Linked DNA regions of Homo sapiens: region 1 is linked to region 2. Evidence: fine-mapped expression QTL. A gene starts in region 2. The other region holds a variant in brackets. All regions are shown on one strand. Distances are from middle to middle.

Region 1 (5,491 bases), 65 kb before region 2:
CCAGATCCTAAGGGGCCTTAAATGGCATGCCAATATTTCTGAGTACTGTGCAGTCTTCAAGGGTTACAACAGATCACGAACCTTCCAGTGCTTCCTCTCATAACACAGTATTTAGATTCCCAGACTTTGGAGCCAGATCGGCTGAGTTCAAACCCTGTCTGTGCAACTATCAGCTGTTCAGCTGTGTGACCTTGGGCAAGTTACTTAACCTCTCTGAACCCTGATTCCTCCTGCAAACGGTGGGAAAAATAATAGAACCAATCTCTCTGGGTTGCTGTAAGGATTAAATTAATTTACAGTGCATGTAACATGCTTACAGCAATGTCTGGCACACAGTAAGCACTAAGTATTTGTTGTTATTTGTCATCTACCATCACCTCAACTATCTCTTCTAGCAGCTGAATCTTCTGTAATTTAACCCCAAGGAAGTTTAAGAGCAAGGTGGGCTGCCTAGATCCCTGGTTTGCAGGAGCGGGTTGTTTGTCAGAGCTGGAGCTGGGGAGCTTCCAGCCAAACCCTGAGACTTGGGGAGGGGTCAAGAAAGGAGCCTGCTTACCAACCACTTCTGGGGAGACCCTAACTAACATCCCGTCCCTCCTCCCCACTGTCAGGAAGGCATCCTCAGGGCTGGGACCGGGCCCATACAGCTGCCTTCTCTCTTGAGGAGAAAGCTGTGATGGAAACCCTTTTCTCTAGGGAGGAAATGGGCAGGGAATGACATTTGTGTCCCCACCAGTATGCAAATCACCTTATGAGACAAATGATTTTGCAGGAAAACACATCCTGTTTCCTCTAGAACATTTCCCTTGATGTCTGGGGGGAACTGGTTGGAATGGTCAAGGTCACAGCAAGTGTTCAGAAAGCTCCTGACCACTGTCCCCTGTCCCGGAGAAACCAGGGAGTGGTAGAGAAGGGACTAGGCTTGGCAGTCCTAGGCTTGGCAGCTGACAAGGAAACTGGCCCTGGGCACACAAGCTCCCTCGCCAGGTTTTCCCAGATGACAAGGGTGCAGGGAGGCCTGGTGGAGCAGCGTCTGGGGAGCCAGGGGTCCTGGCTTCTAGGGCTAGCTCAGCCCCTCACAGGGAGGCCTGGTGGAGCAGCATCTGGGGAGCCAGGGGTCCTGGCTTCTAGGACTAGCTCAGCTCCTCACCCACAGCATGACCTTCGACAAGTCATTTCCCTCTGTAGACCTGAGTTTCCTTATCTGTAATATGAGAGGGTTAAATGAAATCAAGTGTTTGTAACTTGGGGTACACAGATCCTTAAATCATCGATGGGCTTCAGGGGATTGCTGCCACCCCTCAAGTGTATGCAAATATACAATTGTGCATGTGTATATTTTTCTGCAGAGGTGTGCAAAACTGTCATCAGTTCACAGAGGGATCTATTATCCAGACAAAAGTTTAGGTGGTCTCTGGGCTCCCTTGAGCTGGGTGCTGGGCTGATGGAAGTTTCTCAAGGCCAAGGATATGCCTTTAACACCAGCGAGGCATAGTTCTGGCACACTGTAGAGCCTCAATGTTTGTTGAATGAATGATGTAGAGGCTCAATGTTTGTTGAATGAATGAATGACACTCATCAAATGCTGGGTCATGAGCACAGCAAAGGGCGGAGATGGATATTGGCGCAGGGTCTCAGCTGTGGGAGTGAAGTGGGACAGCGAGAGGGCTAGTAAGGGGTCAGGGTTTGGAGAGAACAGGAGAGGTGTCTAAGAATGTAACCTGAATCTGCTCAGTCCAGGGGCTGTCTGGTTTGGGTTTCTAGTCACTACCAGGCGTGCACACCTCTCATTCCCCTTTGTTCTTTATAGAAGACTCGGCTAAGCCAAACCCAGCCCCAGGTTCAGCAACTAAATTGGTTTGGTTGCAGCAATTAAAATTCTCAAGCTTCTCCAACCAGAAAATCCATCGAACTTGAAGAATGTAGCCTGGTCTCCAGGGGTCACTGGAACTGGTATGGAAGTGAAAGTAAAAGCAGGGGTCAGCCTGTCTGCCTGCCAAGGATACCTCCAGCCCTAATGGGCCCCTACACCCTTCATTCAGGCGCTGCCCCCACTTGGACTTTTGGCTGAACTCTGTCACCCTCTAGTACCTTTGAGCTTTTCCTGTCCACTCATACCTTCTTCTTGGCCTACACATATGCACTGGTTTCTACACTGGTCTCTCTTGTCCTTAAAATGCCTTCACCAGTTTTTTTATGATCTGGGAAAACGCTTGTGATTTGATGATTAGGATACACACACACACACTCACACACACACATGCACAATTGTGTATCTATAGTAGTCTCAACCCCAAAATATAAAACATGTAGAAATTCATATACACAAGCATAATGTTTTGATGTTTGCGCTGTCTTAAGACCATTCTGTTTCTCCCCTTCTGTTACAAAGGAAATGTGCTCAGATGAAAGGGATTCTGAGAACTCAATAGCAGAGGAGGCACAGAGGCTGAGGGCATCTGTATGGCAGGCGAGACACCCAGGGAGGATAATTGCATGGTCCAAGACCCAGAGGCCCCTGGGCAGGTACAGGCCTGGCTAAAGGAAGCTCATGTAGTTCCCTGG[A/G]AAGGCCAAGCTTGGGAAAAATGGTTTCAGCTGGTCAGGCCCTTTGAGGTAGGACCTCAGCCCATTGGAAGGAGTAGGGGGATGGGGTGGGTACACGACCCAGCAGAATCCATTCCCTTGGAGAGGGGTAGCAAGGGCTGGGGCCAGGCCTGGGGTTGATGACTGAGCTCACTCTGCCTGGAGAACTGGGGCAGACCAGCTTTCCCCCAGGCAGAGGCCAGTACAGGGGAGGAGGATGAGAGACTGTAGGGATTCCCAGTTAGTCTCCCCAGGCCTCACCTCAGCAGGCTAGATACAGTCGGGGAAGTCAAGCATGGGGGAAATGCCTCCTCTCATTTCTCAAGGGAGAACTGGAAGCTGTTTCCCCCTTTGCACTTTTCAGTCTGGCTTCCAGCCTCATCTGTTTTCTGGAACCATTCTCTTTCCAGAGCCCCAGAGGCCTCCATCCAATAGCACTTGTGTTAACACTGCCAGTGCCCACTTCCTGGAACCCTCTGCATCCTTGGCCTTCCTGGCCTCAAGTTCCCTGTTGTTCTTCCCCTCGGGTCACCCCTTCTTCCTTTACTGTGCCCTTTACAAGCCCTTCCTTCCCTGCTGTGGGAACCCCCAATGCTCAGGCCTTGGGATTCTGCTCTTCCTTCTCTACGGTGGGCTCCCTTAGAAAAATTAGCTCTCTCTGGGTTTCAACTGATGCTTCCACAACAACGACATAATGGATAGTAGAGAGACATGGTCACTGGGGAATAGATTTTTTTAAAAATAATATCCTCCACTTTGGGAGGCCGTAGGCAGATCACCTGAGTTCAGGAGTTCGAGACCAGCCTGGACAACATGGCAAAACCACATCTCTATTAAAAATACAAAAATTAGCCAGGCATGGTGGCATACGCCTCCCAGCTACTCAGGAGGCTGAGGCAGGAGAATTGCTTGAACCCAGGAAGCAGAGGCTGCAGTGAGCTGAGATCATGCCACTGCACTCCAGCCTGTGCAACAGAGCAAGACTCTGTCTCAAAATAATAATAATGATAATAATAATAATAATATCCTCACTTTGCAGAGAGGAAAGGATTCAGATGAGTTAGGAGACCCACCCAAGGGTCACTCACCTTAGGCAACTCGCCCTTTTTACCACCTTCTCTTCCGTCGTGGCCCCATCCCCACAGCGACCTATGAGGCTGTAACACACAGAAGGAAGCCCCACTTAATCAAAAGTAACTGGGCCAACTCCTCCTGCCCAACCCCATGCCATGGCCAGATCATTGTCAAGCTGTCCCAGGCGTGCGTCATGGTCACTCCCTGATCTGACTTGAACATTGGCCTTGGGAGGAAAACGGAGCTGTCAGTCTGACTTCCTCTTCCTTTCTCCCCTCTGCCTCTGCTGAGAGCATTGAGGGAGGAGTCATAGTTCTCTTCATAGTCATAGTTTCCAGAATAAGGCATTTCCATAGGCAGCCGGGTGCGGTGGCTCACGCCTGTAGTCCTAGCACTTTGGGAGGCAGAGGCAGGCAGATCACCTGAGGTCAGGAGTTCCAGACCAGCCTGGCCAACATGGCGAAACCTTGTCTCTACTAAAAATACAAAAATTAGCCAGGCATGGTGGGGCATGCCTGTAATCCCAGCTACTCGGGAGGCTGAGGCAGGAGAATCACTTGAACCCAGGAAGCTGAGGTGGCAGTGAGCTGAGATTGTGCCATCGCACTCCAGCCTGGGCAACAGAGCGAGACTCCATCTCAAAAAACAAAAACAAAAACAAAAACAAAAAAATCATAGGCTATAGTAGTGCTGTTGCCATTTGACTAGTGTCTATTACACTGAGCATCTACTATATACCCAGAACTTTCCTGGGTTCTAGGGATATAGCAATGAGCAGAACAAATTCTTTTTTTTTTTTTCTTTGAGGTAGAGTCTCACTCTGTCACCTAGGCTGGAGTACAGTGGTGCAATCTCAGCTCACTGCAACCTCTACTTCCCAGGTTCAAGTGATTTTCGTGCCTCAGCCACCCAAGTAGCTGGGATTATAGCCATGCGCCACCACACACAGCTAATTTTTTTGTATTTTTTAGTAGAGATGGGGTTCGCCATGTTGGCTAGGCTGGTCTCAAACTCCTGGCCTTAAATGATCCACCCACCTCAGCCTCCCAAATTGCTGGGATTGCAAGCATGAGCCATCGCACCTGGCGCAGAACAAATTTTTATCCTATATATTGTAACAGAACTGTATTGAACGAAGTATTTCAGCCTTGGATGACACATACTTAAACCCATGAAGATGATAAAGCCCACTATCGAGAAGACTTATTGTTTTGTCTGCCCAGAACAGCACCTCCCTTCTTTGGGGGAAATCCTCCTTCACCAATTCAGCTGTAATTATGGAAGGAGCTGCCAATTATTGTGCCAATTATTGTGTATTGCTCCAGTGTTCACAGGAATGAGTGTGAAACCCAGGTTGGGCCAGTCACTGAACCCTAGGAGCCCCTTGGCCACAGTGATTGGTCTAGGAAGAGTCATATGGTCTGGGTTGAACAAATCAGAATGCCTTTCCTTCCATAGCTTTTTCCTTTAAAAGTTTTAAAATTAATTTTAAATACATAAATTATACCTGAATACGTTATCACTGAAAAAGTTTAAACCTGACAGTCTCCTTCAATCTCAACACCTAATCTTAGCTTCACCAGAGATAACCAAGGTAATTTAGTGAATCTAGACCTTTTCTATGCATTTTCATATATTTAGAAATATGTTATAAACATATATAAATATATATTATTATTTCAAGGTTTTGTTTTGGTTTTGGTTTATGCTTGAGTGATACCATATTGTATCTATATACTGCAAATTACATTTTTCATTTACCAAGATGTCTTAGGGGTTTATGTCAGTACATACTTCATTCTTTTTAATAGTTTCCAGGTTTTCAGAGTATAAA
Region 2 (5,251 bases):
TTCCTACCCTGAATACCAATCCCAATACTCAGCTTCATAAGGCTTTTCCTTTCCTTCAAGTTCCAGCTCAAAATCCTTATGCTCATAAAGCTTCCCTGTGGAGTGCGATCGCTCACGCCTGTAATCTCTACACTTTGGGAGGCCGGGGGGCGGGGTGGGGGGGGGGGGTGGGGGGTGGATCACAAGGTCAGGAGTTCAAGACCAGCCTGGCCAATATGGTGAAACCCCATCTCTACTAAAATAAAAAAAATTAAGTTTCCCAAAGATCTAAGTCAGTGCTGTCCAACAGAAATATAATGACAGCTGTATGCGTCATCTTAAATTTTCTATTAGCCACATTAAAAAATTAAAAGGAAACAGGTAAAATTATTGTCATTTCAACATGTCATCAATATAAAAATATCATGAAAGAGATATTTTACATTCTTTTTTTCAGACTAAGTCTTTGAAATTCAGTGTGTATTTTGCATTTACAGCACACATCAATTGCAACTAGCCACACTGCAAGTGCTCAGTAACCACATGTGGCTAGTGGCTACCATATCAGACAACACAGGTCTAAGTCCCCAGTGACTGTTCTCTCTTCTCCAAACTTTCACTCTAGCATACTTATGGTTTCTAGCTTTTGTTTGGCACTTAGCACAAGTAATTTCATAATTTTTCCTATCTTCCCAACTATATATTAATGCCATCTTCTACCTTTTTATACTCCCATCTCCTGAATATCCATTTTCTAAAATATCTGGTGTTAAAGAAAGTTTATTATTTTGGCTAAGGGACCAGCTTTATCTGATTAGATATTCCACATTTCAGGATATCTTCACAAAGTACAAAAAATTCAAGAGAATATCCTATATTGAATAACATCCCATTTATTTGATTGAATAGAGTTCCATCCCCTCCAATGATAATCACATAGCACAAGGTCAGTACTTAATAAATATAAAATTTTAGAATTGTAAAAATAATAATTTTATGCTTAGGACAAGTTTTGAACAAGAGAGTGCATTAAAAATAAATTTTTAAAAAATCCAAAGTGCCTATAAGTCAATTTCTTTACAACAGTAAAGTCAGTGAATCTCTCTGGGTTTTGGTTACCTCATGTGCAAATTGTGTTTGCCCTATCTATCTCAAGGAGCCATGAAAAGCTGTATGATTTAAAAAAACATTTAAGGGTACCACTTGTAATGAACTTAAAATATTAACCTCCGGCAGCAATTTTAATTTCTTACCCATTCCCCAGGTGCAACCCATCTCATCATCTTGGCTACCAGCATTTATCTTCCTTTCAGAGGTATCCATTTCCTCTTCTTCATCTGAGTCTTCTCCTAGCATCTTCTTCTCCAACAATATTTGCTGCTGCTTGCGCAATTCCTTCAACTGTGTTACTGTTAACTCGGATTCTGCCTCTCGGTCTTCCTCTGGTCCCTGATGAACCAAGGAAAAAAAGGTTATTTATTTATTTAGAGACAGGGTCTTGCTCTGTCGCCTAGGCTGGACTGGAGTGCAGTGGCTGTAATACACCTCACTGCAGCCTTGACCTCCTGGGCTCAGGTGATCCTCCCACCTCAGCCTCCTGAGCAGCTGGGACCATGATGCCTGGCTAATTTTTTTTTTTTTTTTTAAGAGACAGGGTCTTGCCATGTTGCCCAGCCTCCTCTCAAACTCCTGGGCTAAAGCGATCCTCCCGCCTGGGCCTCCCAAAGTGTTGGGATTACAGGCGCGAGCCACCGCGCCTGGCCAAACAAGTTATTTTAGAGTTCGGGATTGTGAACATGACTTTCAGAAATATAGCAATGTGTACAGCCGTCTGAAGATGATAGGCCAGACTTGATTCCTTCACTTTCGTAATCGCTGAGTGGGAGATTCTTCTTCCTCATCCAAAGCTTAAGAAGCACAAGAACGCAGTCCAATGAACCCGAAATTTCAATTCTAGGTTTTTCTACCTACCTGCAGGATAAAGAGCCGGGTGCTGCCTCCAAAGCGAACAACATGCCCAACGTGGACTCGACAGTAGGTGCGAGGTGGGATGCGAGTTTTGTTGAGAAAAGTGCCATGGGTGCTTCCCAGATCGTAGAGGTAGAAGCCCGGCCCGTTGCTGTCGCATTCTCCGTCAGGGCCGGACGCCCTGTGCTGCAGCACTGCGTGGTACCGAGACACCGAAGGGTGCTCCAGGCACACGTCGCAGCCAGACAGCCTCCCGAAAAGGCAGTAACTCGTCCCTTTCAAGCTACGGGTGCCAAGGATAGTGCCGCCCTTCAGGGTCTCTAAGCTGTAGGGGGCTGTGGCAGGGCCACCCCATGGAGGCTCTTGGTAGGGGGGAGCCCGGGCTGGACCGCCAGGGGAAGAAACCGCTGTCGGGGGGCGCGACTGCTCCTCCTGTAGACTCCTAAAATCACCGCAGTCCGGCTGAGGAGGAGGGATGTCGGGCTCCCCAGAATTGGAGTCCTGCAACGCAGTGGGCCCTTCCTTCTGTACCTCCTCAGGGTTTGAAGAACTGCTGGCCGGGGCCTTACTCCGCGCCGCTGGGGACACCGGCAGAGCTGGCTTCTTGAAGTCCCCACTGAGGTCTTGCGACGCCAGGGTCTCTGACTGAGAGAGAATGTCAGCCATCCTCAACCGGTGCAACTTCGAAATCCGCTCCTTCGAAACCCACCCTTCGGTCTTTACGTTCCTGTCCACGTCCCACTCTCCCAAGCTCCCAGTGGCGTCTGTAGGCGGCGATGGTGAAGTTGCTCCTTCACGACCTGGAGCGTTGCGAAGTGGTGCTAACATGAGAAGGTCATAATATGAGAAAAACAAAACGGTTATCGGGATGCTGTGCAGAACGGGGACATATTTAGAGGTTACAACGGGATCGTAATGACTTCCTGTTGCATAGCTTGATTGAGAAGAAGCGCTTCCGGCGGTCTTAGATCACTAATCAACAAACCAGCTTTCGGGGTCTGACGCGATCCTTGCCTCAGGCCTCTCGAGGTCCAGACAGCCGCCCAGCCCGCTCTGCGACGCAGCAGTGAATAGTGTGGTACCTCCTTGTCTCGGTTCAGGTCCAGACCTCCCCGTCTTCCGGCTGCCCTGAACGTCAGGCGACCTCAGGACCCTGTGATTGGCGCCTGCGCCGGCGGACCGTGACCGAGGAAACCCCTGGAGGGACTTGGGCATTCCTTGGGCTCCGTGCCTGTTCTTCGTGCTCCTTTCGGTAAAGTAAGGGAAGAGGGCGACTTTTTTGTTATTTCGTTCATTCATTTATTTTTTTTCTGAAATTATTAAGGCAGAATAGTTAAGTGGTTAAGAGAGCAGACTCTGGAGACTGTCGATTTTTGACCTCGCCATTTGTGACATTGGGCAAGACACTAGGCCTCAGCCCTCACTCTGAAAAATGGGGATAAGATTATTAGCCTCATAGGGTTGTTGGAAGAATTGAATCAAACAATAAAGGCCAGCCAGACCGGTGGCTCATGCCTGTAATCCCAACATTTTGGGAGGCTGAGGCGGGAGGATTGCTTGAGCCCAGGAGTTCCAGAGGAGGCTGGGCAACATGGCGAGACCCTGTCTCGCCAAAAAAAAAAAAAAAAAAGAAAAAATCCAGGTTTGATGGTGCGCGCCTGTAGTCCCAGCTACTCCAGAGGCTGAGGTGGGAGGATTGCTTGGTCCCAGGAGGTTGAGGCTGCAGTGAACCATGACTGCACCACTGCACTCCAGCCTGGGCTACAGAGTGAAACCCTGTCTCAAAAAAGAAACAAACAAAAAAGGTGAAGTCTGGCATATAGTAAACATTCAACAAATGCCAGATATTTCTGTGTGCCTGGCCCTGTAACAAGACCACAGCCATAAGAAATAGACGGGCAGAAAAAATCTATTGCGATAAGTACTAATTAAAATCCAAGGATAACTGCTGTGACATAGACTTGCAAAGCACTGTGAGAATAGAGAAAGGGAGATGCACTGGTGAAGTGACGGACGGTGGGGACTTATGCTGTACTTAAAAATGAATATGAGTCTGCCAGGGATGTGCAAGGTTGGCAGAGCATTTCTGGCAGAGTTCACAGCTGAAAGTGTCAATTGTGGAAATGTACAGCATTCTCAAGAAACTGAGTAGTATAATGTTGTTAGAACAAAGGTAGTCATTTCACCCAGGAAGCTCCTCCTTTGTGCTTCCAGTACCCCAGGTCCATATACCTCTAGAACAGTACTTACCATGTTTCATATTGAAATATTCTGCTTCTGTTTCTCTTCCTCACTTCAGGGCAAGGATCTCACATTATCAGTCTTTGACCGACACAGAATGCCTGGCATTTGATAAATGTTTGTTGAACTTGAAGAGACATATGGACAATGAATCTGCAAAGGTGAGTTGAAACCAGATTGTGAATTTTGTTGAATGGTAAGCCAAGGAATTCTGACTTTTTCCAATAGGCAATGGGAAGCCATTTGATTTAAGTTTTAAAAAGAGTAAGTCTAGCAGCAGTGTAGAGAATAGATGACATACAAAGAGAGATTGGAGGAAGGGATACCAGTTAGAAGGCAGCAGAAATCTCTCACGTTCTATATGTCAAAAGTTGAAAGCATAATGCCATTTAGATTAATGGTTCATAAATTTTTCCACCAGGATCATGCCTAAGACACACAGAGTAAGAACCACTTCTTATTATCTTTAACCCTACTAGTTTTTCTCCTATTGATCCAGCACAGATGTATCAAGATACCTTATCATGCCTTGCTTATTGTTCAGGATTGAGCGTGATGGTAGTTCTGGTAATGAGTTAGTGAGTGAGATGGGAAATAGGGATACTAGAGCTCCAGATGCTGTTGTAGCTATTGGTCCACTAATGACCCAAATTCTACCCTGTGGTTCAGTGTAGTAGGAATTGTCATAGTATGACAATAACCAGCATCTAACAGTTACATTTCTCTTAATTTATTTAGGGAGAACACCTTTGGTCCTACAGTTTTGCTGACACTGACATTTTTCTAAGTGGTCACAAATAGCCTACTTTTTACATAAATAACTGGCTAGACCTCGTATTTTTCACTACAGAAGCCTATAATCTAAAGTTGCCAGGATTTAAACACATTACTTTTAGGTTATTGTCTACATTTATCCTGAGACCTCTTCTCTTCTTATTCCAAAATGTTGAGATACTGGGGAGAGATACCAATATCATCAAGCCAGACCAACAGAAGTTCCTTCGATTTGCTCCCACGGGAGTTCCGTCTGGTGGAAGTCCATGACCCACCCCTGCACCAACCC

The links. PIP is the estimated chance that this variant, and not a neighbour inherited with it, causes the effect. A credible set is the group of variants that fine-mapping cannot tell apart.
Region 1: its variant is the best candidate, but not a certain one, in a credible set for the expression of SUPT7L in whole blood (TOPMed, PIP 0.60).

What each region holds. Positions count from the first base shown.
Region 1 is chr2:27,725,866-27,731,356 of GRCh38, reverse strand. The region is part of intron 2 of LOC105374378 (a long non-coding RNA gene); the gene reads right to left. Among named protein-coding and RNA genes, the nearest start is that of LINC01460, 13 kb to the right of the region's middle. The variant A/G (reference allele first, on the strand shown) is at 2,566.
Region 2 is chr2:27,661,277-27,666,527 of GRCh38, reverse strand. SUPT7L (SPT7 like, STAGA complex subunit gamma) reads left to right here and starts at 2,914. Exons shown (of 6, transcript NM_014860.3): 1 at 2,914-3,199; 2 at 4,247-4,349; 3 at 5,140-5,251. The coding sequence starts at 4,336. It overlaps SLC4A1AP (solute carrier family 4 member 1 adaptor protein), which reads right to left and starts at 2,639. Exons shown (of 14, transcript NM_018158.3): 1 at 1,951-2,639; 2 at 1,233-1,428. The coding sequence starts at 2,613.